3 linked regions of the Homo sapiens genome follow. The protein of the gene in region 2 purifies or fractionates together with the protein of the main gene of each other region. This does not show direct contact. Each region holds a gene or a part of one and is shown on either strand. Other genes may lie near its edges.

Evidence for each region.
Region 1: the proteins of MMP3 (region 2) and NUCB1 purify together in Homo sapiens (affinity purification with mass spectrometry; 3 studies listed by BioGRID and IntAct, with this or other methods). This does not show direct contact.
Region 3: the proteins of MMP3 (region 2) and PTPRS purify together in Homo sapiens (affinity purification with mass spectrometry; 4 studies listed by BioGRID and IntAct, with this or other methods). This does not show direct contact.

What each region holds. Positions count from the first base shown.
Region 1 is NC_000019.10:48,910,285-48,914,034, reverse strand, and holds part of NUCB1 (nucleobindin-1 precursor), read right to left. Parts: intron 3,106-3,750; exon of another isoform or gene 2,887-3,105; coding exon 2,783-2,886; intron 1,025-2,782; coding exon 839-1,024; intron 562-838; coding exon 471-561; intron 1-470. UniProt on the Homo sapiens protein: Major calcium-binding protein of the Golgi which may have a role in calcium homeostasis. Acts as a non-receptor guanine nucleotide exchange factor which binds to and activates alpha subunits of guanine nucleotide-binding proteins (G proteins).
Region 2 is NC_000011.10:102,836,964-102,840,713, reverse strand, and holds part of MMP3 (stromelysin-1 preproprotein), read left to right. Parts: intron 1-120; coding exon 121-285; intron 286-461; coding exon 462-606; intron 607-1,470; coding exon 1,471-1,604; intron 1,605-2,003; coding exon 2,004-2,163; intron 2,164-3,312; coding exon 3,313-3,416; intron 3,417-3,750. UniProt on the Homo sapiens protein: Metalloproteinase with a rather broad substrate specificity that can degrade fibronectin, laminin, gelatins of type I, III, IV, and V; collagens III, IV, X, and IX, and cartilage proteoglycans.
Region 3 is NC_000019.10:5,215,152-5,218,901, forward strand, and holds part of PTPRS (receptor-type tyrosine-protein phosphatase S isoform 1 precursor), read right to left. Parts: intron 3,648-3,750; coding exon 3,636-3,647; intron 3,382-3,635; coding exon 3,269-3,381; intron 1,617-3,268; coding exon 1,569-1,616; intron 445-1,568; coding exon 347-444; intron 262-346; coding exon 138-261; intron 1-137. UniProt on the Homo sapiens protein: Cell surface receptor that binds to glycosaminoglycans, including chondroitin sulfate proteoglycans and heparan sulfate proteoglycan.

The sequences.
Region 1 (3,750 bases), on a different chromosome or scaffold from region 2:
GGTCATGCCACTGCACTCCAGCCTGGGCAACAGAGCAAGACTCCATCTCAAAAAAAAAAAAAAAAAGGAAAAAGAAAAAGAGAAAGGGTTTTCCAGGCTTCTGGAGGCCTGGTTCTTAGGGAACAACCCACTCCTAGCGACAGGGTTCCCAGAGTGGACCAGGGCTTCTCCTGGGCTGCTGTGGGCAGAGGGCCCAGGCCTAGCCAAGCCTGGTTTGCTTACAGAGGACACCAGCTGTCCTTAGAACCCCGAGGTCTGGTGTTTGCTAGAAAAGAGGCCCAACCCTTCCATGCAGATCCTAGCCTTGTAGTCGGGAGAGGCAGGGCTGTCTGGTCAACCAGGGGACATAGGCTTGGCTCTTGGGCCTGACTAAGCCCTCCTGGGACAGACACACCCCTCTTAGCATTCAGGTCCTAGAAGGGTCAGAATCTAGGGTTCATCCTGGCTCTGGAACTCCCTCCCCACCTTACCATGCAGTATGAAGAAGGTCTTGGGGTTAAACCTGTTGGGGTCCAGTCCATCCAGCTCCTCCCACACCTCCTTCAACTGGGCTTGGCTGCCCTGTGGAGGGGAGAGCCAGGAGCTCATGAGCAAGAAGTCTGGATGCCATGGGATAAAACCAAATATCCCTTTACCCTCATCCAACAAACATCATCTCCCTCAAGCAAGAAAACTAAGAAAACTACAACTCCCAGCAGACCCTGGGGCAGCCAGGTACAGTAACAGGGAGTTTTTTTGCCTCAAGGGCCCCTGGGAATTGTAGTTCTTTAACTGCTTTCTTGTCTTGCGTTTGAACTGGATGTGGTAGGGAGTGGATGGGCACAAATGGGGTCCTCACAGGCACGTTGACTTTAGGGTGCTCGCGGTGCCGGCGCTGTTGCTCTTCCAGCTTCCTCTCCGCCTCCTTTCTCTGCTCCTCTCCCAGTGACTCCAGATAACGCCGTCTCTCGTGTTCCTTAAGCATCTCGTAGCGCTTGAACTCTTCATGATGGGCTGCGTCGTACTGGGCAAGGTCCCGGGTGGCCTGGGGAAAGGCACAGGGTCATTCCCCTCTGCCCCCTCTGCCCAGCCCCCAATTCCAGCCTGTAAATGGCAGGCCCTTGGCCCTGAACCTGGCTGAGGGCAGCCCCAGCCTCTACCTGTCTTTCTTACGTCTCGTGTCCTAATGTCCCTTTTTTTTTTTTTTTTTTTGAGAGGGAGTCTTGCTCTGTTGCCCAGGCTGGAGTGCGGTGGCACAATCTCTGCTCACTGCCTCACTTCAACCTCTGTCTTCCGGGTTCAAGTGATTCTCCTGCCTCGGCCTTTCGAGTAGCTGGGATTATAGGCATGTGTCACCAGGCCCAGCTGATTTTTGTATTTTTAGTAGAAACGAGGTTTCACCATGTTGGCCAGGCTGGTCTCAAACTCCTGACCTCAGGTGATCCGCCCACGTCAGCCTCCCAAAGTGCTGGGATTATAGGCGTGAGCCATCGCGCACAGCCTGATGTCGCCCTTTTTGGTTTCCATGACTGCTCCTGCCCCATAACACACTTTCTTCTCTTTATTCAAAACAGATTGGGACGGTTATACAATAGCAACTTCAACCCACCTCTTTCAAGTCCTCCACAATCTCCAGATCTTGGAGGAATAAGTAAATAGGAACAACATATGTGGTGAACTTAGTATTTATGTATTTCAGGTACAGCTAGGTGGCCAAGAACATAAGGTCAGACTAGGAGAGGTGGGTCACGCCTGGAATCCTAGCACTTTGGGAGGCTAGGGTGGGAGGATCACTCGAGCCCGGGAGTTCAAGACTAACTCACATAACACAGCGAGACCTTGTGTCTACTAAAAATTTTTAAAATTAGCCTGGTGCGGTGGCTTGCACCTCTGGTCCCAGCTACTCAGGAGGGTCAGGTGGGAGGATTGCTTGAGCCCAGGAGGTTGAGGCTGCAGTGAGCTGTGATCATGCCACTGCACTCCAGCCTGGGCATCAGAGCAAGACGCTGTCTCAGGTAAAAAAAAAAAAAAAAAAAGTAAAAATAAACCAAAAAAAGAACAAGAGGTTTCTAACTATTTTGCCCAGCGTTCAAATCTAGGCTTTGCTTTGTGACCAAATCTCATAAGCTCTGTGACACTGGGCAAGTTACTCAGCCTCTTTGTGCCTCAGTTTCCACCTCTGTAAAATGGAGTTAACAATACCAGGTTGAACAGTATACTCCCCCCACACTCCCAAATTCATGTCCACCTGGAATCTCAGAATGTGATCTTATTTGGAAATAGAGTGTTTGCAGATGTAATTAGTTAAGATGATGGCCTGCTAGATTACGGTGGGTATCACTATAAGAAGAGCTGGGTGCGGTGGCTGACACTTGTAATCCCAGCACTTTGGGAGGCTGAGGCGGGTGGATCACCTGAGGTCAGGAGTTCGAGACCAGCCTGGCCAACATGGTGAAACCCTGTCTCTACTAAAAATACAAAAATTTTCTGGGCGTGACGGCAGGCACCTGTAATCCTAGCTACTCGGGAGGCTGAGGCAGGAGAATCGCTTGAACCCGGGAGGCGGAGGTTGCAGTGAGCCGAGATTGTGCCATTGCACTCCAGCCTGGGGGAAAACAGCGAGATTTCGTCTCAAAAAAAAAAAAAAAAAGAAAAGAAAAGAAACGACTCAGCCCTCTACCAGCCTCCAACCTCAGAGAACACCAGCAGGAATGGTGAGCTGGCTCACGTCTGGGACTCTGTCCCCTTCTCCCCTTCCGCAAAGCTACCCTCAATCCTCTGCCTCCGGACCCACTCCCATTACCGTCTGGATCAGCAGCTCCAGGTCGCGGGCCTCGAATGTATGCTGGTTCTGAGGGTCCAGGTGTTCAAACTGTTTCAGGAGATTCAGATGATCCACCTGTACATCTGGAAGAGAGGGAAGAGTCCAACACCTGAGGGCATGTTCTTTCAGAACCCCCATCTTGGGCCAGACATGATCCAAAGAAGTCACGGACAGCACTAGGGAAGCCCAGAAGACAGCTTGAACCTGGGGCAATCAGGGAAGGCTTCCTGGAGGAGGTGATCCCACGACTGAGTCTGATGCTTACAATAATAACCATAATAAAAACTAACATGTAGTGCCTACTTACTAGATGCCAGGCCATGCCCTAAGCACTTTAACTGTATTAATTCATTCACTTTCCACAAAATCCTGACAACAAGGGTTTTATGATTATCCCCATTTTATGAATGTGAAAACTGAGACCCCTTGAGGGGTTGTGACTGGTCTAGGGTACCAGCTAGCAAGTGGCAGAGCAAGGATGGGAACCAGCCATTGGACATCCAAAAACCATGACACTCAACCATTTCTTTTTTTCTTTTCCTTCTTTTTTTTTTTTTTTGAGACAGGGTTTCACTCTGCAGTGGCAGGATCTCGGCTCGCTGCAACCTCCGCCTCCCAGGCTCAAGCAATCCTCCTGCCTCAGCCCCGAGTAACTGGGACTACAGGTGCATGCCACCACACTCGGCTAATTTTTGTATTTTTAGTAGAAACAGAAACAGGGTTTCACCATGTTGGCCAGGCTGGTCTTGAACTCCTGACCTCAGGTGATCCACCCACCTCGGCCTCCCAAAGTGTTGTGATTACAGGTGTGAGCCACCACGCCCAGCCTCAACCACTCTTTAAAAAAAACAAACAAGGCTGGGTGCGGTGGCTCACGCCTGTAATCCCAGCACTTTGGGAGGCCAAGGGGGGCGGATCACAAGATCAAGAGATTGAGACCATCCTGG
Region 2 (3,750 bases):
CAAGGTGTAAAAAGCCCTGTGTGGTTCCAAGAAGTAAAAACCAATACAATGCACAGCAGACCTGTGTAATGCACATGTATTTAAAAAATAAGTAACTATTGTTCTCAATTTCTTAAATAGGGACCAATTTATTTCTCGTTGCTGCTCATGAAATTGGCCACTCCCTGGGTCTCTTTCACTCAGCCAACACTGAAGCTTTGATGTACCCACTCTATCACTCACTCACAGACCTGACTCGGTTCCGCCTGTCTCAAGATGATATAAATGGCATTCAGTCCCTCTATGGTGAGTGACACTGGGAAAATCAGCCATTGTAGTTTTGCAATGATGGTCTTCAGAAGAGCTTTCAAATGCTACATAAAGTATTTATGATTTAGTTCAAAGCACCGTGAGAATGTTTGGAAAGCATACAAATGGGCATATATTGAAACGTATCACATTTCCCCTAATGTTCCCTTTAGGACCTCCCCCTGACTCCCCTGAGACCCCCCTGGTACCCACGGAACCTGTCCCTCCAGAACCTGGGACGCCAGCCAACTGTGATCCTGCTTTGTCCTTTGATGCTGTCAGCACTCTGAGGGGAGAAATCCTGATCTTTAAAGACAGGTCAGGCTGAAAAATTATATTTTCCTACCATTTTAATCTACAATGTTTAGAAAGGAAAACACGCAGAAACTTGATAGAGATTCTTAGACATTTAAAACAAAAACGTTTCTTCTGAGCTTGGAATCATTTAGATCTGGTGCTGCCTTTTCCCACATTTTCCTAAAATTGTCAGGTTCATTTTTGAAGGCACAGGCTGATCTGGTTCTTAGCTTCTAATTGCTGTTTCCAAATGTCTTAAGTCACAGTTACTTTTCAAAAGGCATGAGTAGATCTTTCGAATAATAATTTTATTTTTACTTCCTTTAAAAATGACATCAGGATCAACATTACATTTAATCAAGTAATTTACTTACTGATGGATCAATATGCACATGACAAACATTCAAAGAGCACAAATGAGAAGCAAATTAAAAATTTTAGTTCCCAGTTCTCCCTGTACTCATCCAGAGTCAAGACTTTTTGTGCATCCTTCCAGAATCTTTCTACACACATACAAGAATATATTTACACAGCACATACACGTATACAAACACGGCCTAGCTTTTGGAAGAGGGTATAGCACACGCACTGTTTTGCATACATTGCAGGTAATTAAAGCTTATGCTGGGCTAATTCATTTGCACGATAGAATAATTTTTCTTTCATAGAAGACATTACTCTGGAAACCTATGACGGGAGACTCACTACAGTCTTCTGAAGAAAAAGGAAAGAAATTTTCTAATGGCAATATACCTGATTTCTATCTGTCATCCAGCCTAGAAGATGAGAGAATGGGGGAAGCTGGGTGAGGCAAGACGGTGAGGAAAATATTCTAAAGGTGAAAGATTGTTTTTCAATTTACATTTCTTTTTACATATATTTTAGGCACTTTTGGCGCAAATCCCTCAGGAAGCTTGAACCTGAATTGCATTTGATCTCTTCATTTTGGCCATCTCTTCCTTCAGGCGTGGATGCCGCATATGAAGTTACTAGCAAGGACCTCGTTTTCATTTTTAAAGGTAATTACTATATCATCATTTGTTTAACTTGCCAAAGTAAACCCTCTCATAAGAAATTGAACAACACTTTAATTTTCCCTACTACAAGTTCTGGCTAATACAGTAGTCAACGGTAATGAAGAAATAACCAGGGCTGATATCATTGTATTTATATTTCATAGATGATAAAAATAAAGACAAGAAGATAAATTACCCAGAGTTGTAAATTCTCTCATTTGACCTTAGTTCATTCATTCAGTCTGCAAATTTTTGTGAAAAGCCCACTGTAAGCTGGTGACTAAATCTAAAATTTGGGCTACTACTTTACCATGAAAATCAAAGATGCTAAAGTGTATTTCTAAAGCGAAAGGGCTTAACTGTTATAATTCAATATGACTCTGAATTATTTATATTTAACAGGAAATCAATTCTGGGCTATCAGAGGAAATGAGGTACGAGCTGGATACCCAAGAGGCATCCACACCCTAGGTTTCCCTCCAACCGTGAGGAAAATCGATGCAGCCATTTCTGATAAGGAAAAGAACAAAACATATTTCTTTGTAGAGGACAAATACTGGAGGTGAGATGCAAGAGAAATGACTTTGTATGGAGCCTAATTAGGGAAATTAGTTTCTTTTACTAAGGAAATCCCCCACCCCAACCTTAGGCCTGCTTCTCTCTTAGTAGGAAGGATGGGACTTCAGACAACTGTGGGAAAGTTCTTACTTTAAAACAGCAGCACCTTAGGCTCTCCTGCTTTCAGTCCCAAGTGCAGTTGGCTGGTGCTTCCCTTGGTGCTGTCACCCCACCTGCCTGGAGCCCCCTCTTCTCTCCTCAACCTATTCAAATCTTGCCCATCCTTCAAGTCCTGGCTCAAGTCTCATCACCTCCATGCAGCTTTCCCTCGTGGACTTTAGACCCATTGGGAAAATGTTCTGAGAACCCAGACCGCAATTTAGCGTTCCCTTCCCATTGTCTTTTAGTTTGGCTCACTGTCTCACTGTGTGTTTGTCACTGTCTCATTGTGTGTTTGTTTTGTCTTCCTAACACTACTATATGATTTTCAAGGGCTACCTCTAACCTCACCCACTTGTCACCTCTACCTGATAATGATGGCTCATTTAAGAGATGATGATCAATAGCAGTCCAGTTTATGGATACAACCCAACACTCACAGACAGGTTGATTCCTGGGTCATTTGGCCAGACTTTGAGACATCGAGGCCGACCATCTGATATCCAGCCAATGGGCTAAAAACACACTTACTGTGCTTTGCTTCTTATCCTAATCCCTTTTCCCAGGAGGCCACCAGAGAAGATTTAGATGTGCAGGGGAGGGGACAGCAGGCATATATGGGCCAATTGTGGTAGGGAATTAAAATTGCATTTTAGATGTTGATTCAATTCACTTTATATATATGTTCACACTTTCATGTCTTTGTGACAGAAAGATGATTAAGGTTCTTTCTGTCCAGGCTTAAGAAATATGATGACAAACAGCATGTGCTACATACAGCAGGATGCGGCCCCTGTTCCGGATGGAGATATGGCTTTCAGAACTCTTTACAGTACCATTAAAGTCACATATTTCTATAGTCCCAAATATGCTTGGCATTTATTTGCAGTATTTATAAAGTTTAGTAAAATTCCACATTAAACCTAACATGATCTAAGATGTTCGGTAACATGGCCTCTATGCAATGCTGAGCTGTTTCTTTTACTTGGTACAGATTTGATGAGAAGAGAAATTCCATGGAGCCAGGCTTTCCCAAGCAAATAGCTGAAGACTTTCCAGGGATTGACTCAAAGATTGATGCTGTTTTTGAAGAATTTGGTAAGAGGATACTTACTGTGTTGGCCATAGAGCACTTGAAACATTTTATGATATCAGAGGGAAGAGGAGCATTGAAACTTTTTAATAACAAGTGTTTCTTAGGGCCAGTTCCCTTCTCAAAATTTTGATTCGCCTACATTTGTACTCATTATAGAACTACTTCACAAAATAACTTGTTTGGAACCATAAAGATAATTACACAAATCTCGCTACTTTATCTTATACATGCATATAAAATCAAAGTGCTCCAGTGTCACTTACATCTCGAGCTAACATGTGGAGTCAAGCTCGACTTTCAGATTACCATGTTAGCATAAAAATCCCATCAAGTGGT
Region 3 (3,750 bases), on a different chromosome or scaffold from region 2:
TGCCCAGTGGCCTCCAGTTGGAGCTGGACCAGGTCTATGACCAGAATCAGGCCTCAGTGGCCCAAGGGGAGACATGGGATCTAGCACTTTCCATGCAGTGGGGAAGGGCAGGTTAAGACCCGGGATCTCCGAACTACCTTCAATGGGCTGGAGGATGACACGGGAGTGGTCATAGGCGATGACGTTGGCATAGCGGTTCTTCGGCTTGTTCACTTCCAGGTTGGAATGTTCCCATGTGAACTGCTGTCCAGGGTCGATGGACTACAGAGGAAGGGGAGAGCGCGGGTGTCAGGGTAGGTGCCTGTGAGGCCGAGGTGATGAGGGTGGGAGGCGGGGGTGGGCTCACCTCATACTCCTGGGAGAGCTTGAGGCTGTCGTTGGCCTTGAGCCGCTCCGTGTGCTCCGCCATGTCTGCGATGGGAATTGGCGGGTGGCTAAGCATGCCTACAGGGTGGAGCAGACCCCGCCGGGGTTGGTCACTTGGGGGGCCAGCCGGGGACTCGGGGGAGGGGGGTGATCTACGTGTGAGTCTGCGATGGGTGAGCTGTGGTTAGAAGGGCATGGCCGGGGTGGGGCTTGGCAGGAGGGGAAGACTCAGGGTGGCTCATGAAGGGGCTGGGACCCCAGGCCTAGGGGACTCTAAAGGCAGCAGGTTTGAGGCCCTCTGCTCCGTGCAGAGGCTGACACCCCTGGAGGGGCCTGGATCACAGCATTGGCCCATCCTGTTTCCTTCCAACCAAGCTGGGGGTGCAGGGGCTGGCAGAAGGGTCACCCCAGAGGATGTCAAGCTCCCAGTGCCTCGAGCCAAGAAGCAAGTGTGTGGCACAGAAATTAAATTGCAGACGCAGCCGGCTGTGCTTTGGAAATACTGTCCTTGGGTGGGCGACTGACACCCCTTTCTGTCCCTCTGGGATCAGAGGCACGAAATCCGCTTCCAGGTAGAGGCGACAGACTAGGGAGGGGAAACAGTATGTGTGTGTGTACGTGAGAGGAGTGAGGGGTCCCCATCTGTCCCTGCGCTTGCTTGGGGCAGGAGCAGGTGCAAGAAGGCCCTGGCCTGAGAGCTCTTATCCTTTCAAGCCCCCTAGGATGGCTGCCGAAGGTGCTGGGTGTGGGCTCGGTTCTCCCTTCCCGATATCTGGGTCTGCAGAACCCTGACCTCTCCTGGGACCTGTGTACCGGATGTTCAGCTCTCAGGTGGTTTCCAGACCAGCTGGTAACATTTAATGTTCTGAGACTTCCATGTGTCCCTAGCTGTCCTGGGTGCCCCCCAAGAGCTCACATCTAAGGGGCCTGCCTGTCCTGTGGGCACGTCCTGGGTACATACGTGCCTCACCCACATCCCTGACACACACATACACACCACACACACAGCAGTCACACACAGCCACCTGAGGGCCCAATGGACCAACCCCCTGCCCTCTTCCAGGAGCCAGCACAAGACAGGTGGGCAAAGGCCGGTGATGGGTGGGCGTGTGGACAGAGACAGGAGACACGATGGAGAAACCAAAGAGGAAATGAACGGGGGCGGGGGCGAAAGGAAGCCAAAAACAGACACAAGAACTAACTTTCAAAGTGAAACCCCGGCTCCCTGAGGGGGCTCCTGAGGCCTGAATCTGCAAACAGCAAACAATAAATAAATGAAAACATGCAGGGGGTAGGGGGGGGTCCCACCTCTGCCTCCCCCACCCCTCACTGGCTGGCGGATGCAAAGGGCAGAGCAACGCGGACAACGGGGGGTATGTACAGCCACCTGGGCCCCCACCTGAGGACTCACGATAGCTGCTAACTGTGTACCCCTCTGGCTGGACACCAGTCAATCCTGGTCTTGACCCGTCACTCTGGAAGGACTCCAAAGTGCTAGGTTCTTCTGTCTACAGATCCCCTCCCCCAGACCAGCCTGGCCTTGGGTCCCCTCTGTTGAGGTCAGCAGAGGGCATTCTGAGGAAGGAGGATGCAGGATGGTGAAGGAGAAGCTGGGGGAGCAGGGAAAGGACATATGGGCCCATGCCATGAGCTTCAAGGAGGACAGCAACCATCAGTTAAATGCACATGTTGAAAATCCTTATTTGGATGGAAACACAACAGACATCAGCTAGTCCAGAGACAGAAATGAGATGGGAGCACATTAGCGGTGAATTGTGAGACTCTGCATGATCCCTTCAGGAGACTGCAGCCGTCAGTTACATGCACATTTAAAATTCTCATTTGGCTGAAAAACCAAAGCAACACGAATCAGTACAGAGGAAAGAAAGGGAAGAGAATACACGAGGGGTGATACATGAGGCCCTGCATGATCCCTTTATGAGGACAGCAGCCATCAGTTAAATACTAATGGTCAAACTCCTCATTTGGATGAAAACAGAAGTGACACAAGCCAGTCCAGAGACAAAAAAAAAGAAAGTACATCAGGAATGGCATGTGAGGCTATGCATGAGGCTTTAAGGAGGACTAAAGACATCAGTGAAATACAAATGTTTAAAATCTTCATTTGGTTGGAAAATAGAGTTGATATGAACCAGTTCAGAGATACGAAGTGGAGACCGGGTACAGTTGGAAGGACAGATGTAACTTGGCTGTGAACCCATAAGGAGAATAGCAGCCATCAGTAAAATGAAAAATTCCTTATTTGGTTAGAAGCAGCTGGCATGAGCCCATGAAGAGGGAGGAGATGGTAGAGTTTGTGAATCATACATGAAAATGATCAAGGATAAGGCCTTGATTCAGTTCTCCTGGACTGTCAGGTGACTTTAATCTACAGGGAACTATAAAGAGGCATGAACCCTGGCAGCCATGGTGGGAAGAGGTACAGGGCATTGGGCAGGTATAATTTCTGTACCTTGCTAGGGATATATCCCAAGGGAGTGTGGAAAATGGCTGAGGGCAAACCTCAACTCCCACCACCGAGGAACATTAAAACCAGAGACATAAACAGAAGAATAGCTCTTTCTGCCCAAAGAAATGAGGGGTTTATTTGTGTTTTCTCCATTTTTTAAACATCGTCTTTAGGCTCCTGAAGAGGACAGCAGCCATTGGTTAAATGTTAACTTTAAAAAAAAAAAAGCCTCACTTGGTTGTAAGCAGAACCAACCTATGAGTTCCAAGCCCAGATCCATGTAGGGTTGGAGGTATTTGGGAATCCAGAATGTGGCTGCACCAAGCATAGTTCAGAGGGGGCCAATGAGGGGCCCCCAGGGTGGCAGCTACTGCTTCTCCCCAGCTATCTCCCCTGTTGGTGGCATCCCTGGTACCAGGGATAAGTACATACCTGGAGTCTGGAAGTTAATGCGTCTCATTTCCACAGGGTCCTTGGGGTGGTGAGGGGCGAGGTCGGCATTGTTCAGGAGGCATTTGGTGCGGGGTTCTGAGTCCTTGCGTTTACTTTAGGAGAAGCAAGCGGAACAGTCCAGTTAGTAGTGGCACATGTTCATGTGTGAACACAATTCAGGCCCCAGGAATGCATGGTAAGAAAAGGACCATGGACCCGTATGACTAGGGTTTCCAGGACCAAGTACAGCTACGTGTACAAGCTGTGGGGGCAGCCGGGCATCCCCTCTCCTGTGGGCACACTATCAGCCCATTCCCTGTCCTCTTCCTCTTGCCTGAAGCCTCCACGGGGGAGGGCTGGTTCTTACCTGTCGGGTTTGCTGTTCCCGAAAGCAGACACAGGTGAGAAGGGGGAAAAAAAGAAGAAAGGTGAGGGTGTGCCGGCCATCAAGGGCTTGTTCTGTGACTCTCAGTGCCTTCCTT